Regions from separate parts of the Homo sapiens genome. Here region 1 is linked to region 2. Evidence: fine-mapped expression QTL. A gene starts in region 2. The other region holds a variant in brackets. All regions are shown on one strand. Distances are between the middles of the regions.

The links. PIP is the estimated chance that this variant, and not a neighbour inherited with it, causes the effect.
Region 1: its variant is fine-mapped to the expression of MITF in thyroid (GTEx, PIP above 0.99). The same link has a PIP of 0.9 or more in lung.

The regions. Positions count from the first base shown.
Region 1 is chr3:69,866,106-69,869,016 of GRCh38, reverse strand. All of the region lies in intron 1 of MITF (melanocyte inducing transcription factor), which reads right to left. Among named protein-coding and RNA genes, the nearest start is that of MITF, 130 kb to the right of the region's middle. RefSeq lists a cis regulatory region at 2,824-2,911 and a promoter at 2,739-2,911. The variant A/C (reference allele first, on the strand shown) is at 1,531.
Region 2 is chr3:69,738,078-69,740,988 of GRCh38, reverse strand. MITF (melanocyte inducing transcription factor) reads right to left here and starts at 1,525. Exons shown (of 10, transcript NM_001354604.2): 1 at 1,288-1,525. The coding sequence starts at 1,391. RefSeq lists a silencer at 1,290-1,589 and a promoter at 1,389-2,911.

The DNA of each region.
Region 1 (2,911 bases), 130 kb before region 2:
GAGGAACTTTCCCTCCACATGTTAAGATTTCCCAAGTCAGAAGAGATCATATAATCAATGAATATATTTTAGTAAGTTTCTTTCTCCACCAAATAGCTGTCTTTTTTTTTTTTTTTTGAGATGGAGTCTTGCCTCTGTCTCCCAGGCTGGAGTGCAGTGGTGCGATCTTGGCTTACTGCAACCTCCACCTCCCAGGTTCAAGCAATTCTCCTTTCTCAGCCTCCATAGTAGCTGGGTTTATAGGCCCGGGACACCATGCCTGGCTAATTTTTGTATTTTTAGTAGAGACGGGATTTCATCATGTTGGCCAGGCTGGTCTTGAACTCCTGACCTCATGATCCACCTGCCTTGTCCTCCCAAAGTGCTGGGATTACAGGCGTGAGCCACCGCGCCCAGCCAATAGCTGTCTTATAATCAATGGTGAACTGGACTCAGGGAAATACACCTGGTAGACGAAAACCGTGGCATCAGGACCAAACACGGCCCCTCAAGAGCTCAAATGAGTTACAGTTTGGTAATTCAGAAATCTAGGGATAGGAGAAACCCACTAGATAAAAAAGCAGAGGAAGAAATATTGATTCATTTAGTATCTTAAGTGAAAATCCACAGACCACAACAGATAATAGCATTAAGCCCTGGAGCCAGGATCCCTGGGTCAAATTCCTAGCCCTGTCATTTCTTAGCTGTATCACTTGGGCATGGTTTTTCACCTATCCAAGCCTCAGTTTTCTCAGCTGCAAAATGGGGGTGGAAAGACATATCTTCTTCATAGAGCAGTTGTGAAAATTAAATGTGTTAATACAAGCACAATACTTAGCATAGTTCCCACAAACCATGTGGACATGAGTAAAAGTTAGGCAATGAATTCTTCTAGTCTGTGTTTTAATTCCTGAAATGGTATCTGCTGAACATCTTAATATCTAAAAACGAGTCAAAGCTGACAAGTTACTTTCTAGGGAGCCAAAATTCTAGAATGCTGCCTTCTGCTATCATGTTCCTTTTCTTTCCTAGAGGAAAATACAAAACAATTAATTCACAGTGTGTGCTCTCCTAAAAGAATACGCACAGAAAAGTTAATGGGCAATAACTCAGTGAACAAGTTTTGTCAAACGTGTTTGTGAAGAATTTCATTCTGAGAGTGTATAAGGGAAGCATGCTCTTACGACAAGTATTTTAGTTAACTAAAAGAATGAAATTCAAAATTAAGAATTAATTTGGCTGTGAATTCAGGTTTGACATTACTACCATTCTTACGTAGAATCAGAATAGCAAGTTTCATTTGTTCATGCCATCCATTATTAATATTAAAAAATTAGTAAGTTAGAGTATATTTTTGTAGAGAATGAATCACAAAGAGTAGACATCATCTCCCCAGCTAGTATCTCATTAATAAGGCAAAAATTTATAACATTTCTAGCATAGTGACATTTTAAACACATAATTATATATACTTTGTTTAGAAAATGCTCTAACATTTTATAGAGGTGAGTAATTAAGCTGTTATGACGACATAAAGAATGAAAAAAATCT[A/C]AAGTATCTGTTAAAACAAACTGCAGCAGAAATAGAAGCTCAAGAAGTTAGAAATCATTTTTAAAACTACCTTTTATAAGACCTTTTAAAGATGTATCTACTGAAAATGATGAACTTTAACCCACACTTAAACTTATGGTAATTATATTTATATTTTTTAAGAATCAAATTCTAAAAATAGATCTGCTACATCTAGTATTTTTCCATTATTCTTGCTGTCTTTAAACACACCTTCACAAGCTGCTGAACATAATGCCTTTCTGACTTAATCAGAACCTCTCCCATGACCCAGGAACGTTCAGTAAATAATGATTAAGCTCCAGAGGTAGCTTTTGCATAAGTTGATTTGCTTGAATGCCTATTCACTTGGGGACACAGCTTTTAGCACTGTTTTCAAATCTTATCACCTAACAGTGAAAGTAAATGTTAAAGGATGTGGGGGGAACTATACTCTGTTTAGTTTTTCTCCATTTTAATATTTCTTTGAAATTGCCATTTTTTAAACTTGTTCTACATTTATATGCCAGGCAGACAATTCTGATGTTTGGATGTCTGTTTCCCCTTCCAAGAGAAAAAAATCAATATACAAGAATGCAAAGAAGATGTTCATTAATGCAACTGTTACCATTCCACAGTCAGGAAAAAAAAAAAAAAAAGGTGGGGGGAGAAACCAAAAATTCACAGTGTTTACAATGGGAGAGTTTGGACAAATGTTACTACTGTATTAAACACACAGTTTTCCTGAAGAAAATCCTGTTTTATTCATAACAAAGCTGGGCTGCAGTCTATCTTGCAATCATAAATCAAGCTCTGCTCTAACTCAGATTTTTCAAGCAGTCGCGGTATTTTTGTCATTATTAACTTAAGACCAGTATTCAATTTTAAAGGAGAGGGCAAGGATATTGGGTTAGCATTTCTATCTACCACCCCCACCCCCACCCCCAAATTAGTTGTTATCCTTGTCATAGCCACCTACCAGAGGTTACAGCTGAAGCTGATTAAAGCCAGTGAGAAGTAACAGCTTCAGTATTTTTAACTCCCAATAAACCCTTCTCTTCCTTTATCCTCCCCCTTAAAGAGAAAAAAAACTGCTCCTCTTAAGTGGTCCCGGGATTATTTCCAGAATAAAACTTCACTTACAGATACAAGCTTTCAAAGGAGCATGGCATGAACATCTGAACTCTAAGCGCCTCCATCTTTTTTCCTTTAAGGTGTTCTGCAAGCCCTTGGCGAAGAGTGAAAGTCAAAGTTAGTTCTGGCACTGGCTGTGTCACTAGGGGTGGCTCCTGATAAGGCCCTGGAAACTCCAATCCAAACACAGCTCTGTGCTAGAACGGTGCCTGGTTTCTGTCTGCAACAGCAGACCTGTTTAATCCAGTAC
Region 2 (2,911 bases):
ACAGCCCTGAAGGAAATAAACCTGGCTGCACTTTCCACTAGAAAAAGAACCAGCCCAGTGCTCGCCAGAGGCCAAGATTACACCACTTGGCTCCCCGTTCAGTTGCCCTTCTCCACTCACCCTCATTTCAAGACCCTCTCCCACTCTGCCAGCCAGGCCCATTCACCCAGGCCCCATCCACAGCGAAGGGCAAGGCAGGAAGTTACAGCCGAGTGCAGAAGCCCTGCTGGATGCTTCCAATGATAGCCTTATCCTAGCTCACAGCTTAGAGGGGTGGAAATAAACCCTTCTCAGCTATTCCAGCCTCCATTGACCATGTCCCTTTTAGGAAACATTGTAAACGAGAAGTACGAGGCGTCCAGAGTGGCTGCCGGACAGAGAGAACGGAAGACACCCAATCCATTTCGACAGACAAGTGGGAATGGAGGCAGCAAAAAGGGTGGCTCAAGGGAAGTGGGCACTAGAGGGGATGGGGCATCAGAGCAGTGGATGTCTTCACTCCTCGTCTAAAAAGTTTCTGAAGTCCCCAGCGAATTAAACACGTGTCTCTGCCAAGCGGGGTACACTCCCAGTAACCCCCAAGACCAAGGCTCATTTCCCCTCTGCAGGTAAGGCCTGGATTTGAATGGGACTCTATTTCCAGAGAGTTTAACTTGAACAAGGGGACACGCCCACCGCTGCCCTGGCCCCTCCCGCGCCCGCTAGCAGCGGTCTGGAGGTGAGAGGCGGAGCCCAGAGAAACCTCACCTGCAGGAGCCCAGAGGCTAGTTTCCCCACAGAGACCGGACTCCCAAGAGGTGACTCCAAGCGAACTAATTGCTTCCCTCCAATGTCGCATCTCAGTCCACCCAAAGCTCTCCCTCTCCGAGCCCTCAACCCGCTGGGATCTTCAGAAAGGGGGTTCACTAGAACTCTTTCTCCCCCATCCCACCGGGACAGCGTCCCGGCCCGGCGCTCCTCCTCCCCCACATCGCGCCAGGTCGCTCCCCAGCCCCCAATCAGTCTCAGCAGCTGGCATCCTCGGCCGAGGGTCCCCGCGCCTGGACGCTTCGTCCCCGGCGACCCGCCGCGCCCCCGCGAAGTGCGCTCCATCCGAGCTTCCTAAAGGCGCACTTGGGCCGGGCAGGCGCGGCCCCCAACTGCGAGGGGCAGTTCGCCCTCTGCTCCGGGGCAAGGGCACTGGGTCCTTGTCCCAGAGCTCCCGCGACCCGCTCTCCTCGCCCCAGAGTGGCAGACGCAGTGCCCCCCAGCCGCCCGGTGCGCCTCTGCCCAGCTGTCACCACTCACCTGCTCTTCAGCGGTTGACTTTTGAGTTCGTAATAGGTTTTGGGCTCTTCATGAAACTCCTCCCCGACTTCGAAATCCGGCACGATCCCCGATTCGGACTGCATGGCTCCCGCTTCCCGTCCTTCCACTGCTGGAAAGTGAGAACAGAGCCCGGGGGCGGAGGGAAGGTAGCTGGGCCTGGGTCCCCCGAGCCGTGCGCCCCGGCGCAGTGCCGAGCTCTGCCCGCTCGCCGGCTCGCGGCCGCCCGCCCCAGCGCGGGGAGTTTACACTCGCACCCGGGCGGGAGGGGCTGGCGGCCGAGCGCCGCCTGGGATCTGTAGTTCGGCCCGGGCGGGGCATTCCCAGCTCGCCTGGGGAGCCGCTCCCACGAAAACTACAGCTCCCAGAAGGCCAGGCGGGGGAGAGGCAACGTGGTGGACACCGCTAGTGCAACTCCTGTTTGGATTCATTGTCAATGTCAGCAGCTCCTCTCCCTCCTCTCTCCCCACTTGCTTCAAGGGTACAGACTTGGCTACTTAATATGAATAAGAATGGACACTGACTGCTCTTCTACCATCGCCCCGACCTCTCAGCTCAGACATCTGCGAGGGCACGCCAAGTGCTTATTTTAAAAATAAAATAGTCAAGGGTTTTGGCACAAGAAAGTTTTAGCATTCGAGCCTGTCTTAAAATAAAAGGACTTCCTATCAGCTCGCATGCTTCCCTGGGCTGCTGCGACATATCAGCTTGTCCTCGGATTGGAACAACGAGGAAGAACTTTCCTTCGCTCTGTAATGAAAACGTTATTGGAGAAATTGTTCTTGTGCGTTCCTTTTCTAGAACTAAGTCTGGACTTTTACAATAGTATTCATCAGTTGAATGGCTCTTTCCCCTTTATCCAAGTAGCCACTTCTAATCTACAGCAGCAATTGAAAGATTCGGTTAATTTTAAAAGGCACAAAGTTACAAAATAGCGTCGTTGCTCTCTGCTTTTAATTTCTCAGTTGACTGGGAGTTCAAATGAGATTTGTCCTAGCATTTCAGGAGTGAAGATGTACAAGTGAACTGTACAAGTGTCCACCCCTTCCCGAGCTTCCCGGAACTCACTTAGGGAAGAGAATTTTAAAACTCTCCGTTGTGGCTCATTTGTACTTCTAGTTCTTCCCTCTGATTAGCTCCAGTAGGACGTGTTCCTTCTTTTCAAAAGTGTTTTGAGGCATCAGGGAGGCAGTATAGAGTTACAGTGGCATTTAAAGGTATAAGACTCAGAGTTGAAATCCCCAGTCCTTCTAAGAAGAGCTGTGCAATCCTGAGCATGTCACTTGGTTCCTAGAAGCCTCCATTTCTTCATCCATAAAAGAAGAGATTGGCAAACCAGTTTTAGAAGATGTTGCAAGGTCAAATGTAAGAGAAAGTGATTTGCAATCTATAAAAACTCTGCTCAGTGGTCATTCTTTATTAGGTCTTGAAGTTATTCCTTTCAGATTAACATCTCATTTTGGTGTTTGGCCTTTCAGAATTAATAAACTAAATGACTGTCCTAGGAGAAAATTCTAAAGAGGCTACAGTGACAACTGGGCACCTCCCAGGAGTTACCCCTTTGCATATCTTGCCTCCCACTGAAACATTTTAATTTCACATCAGA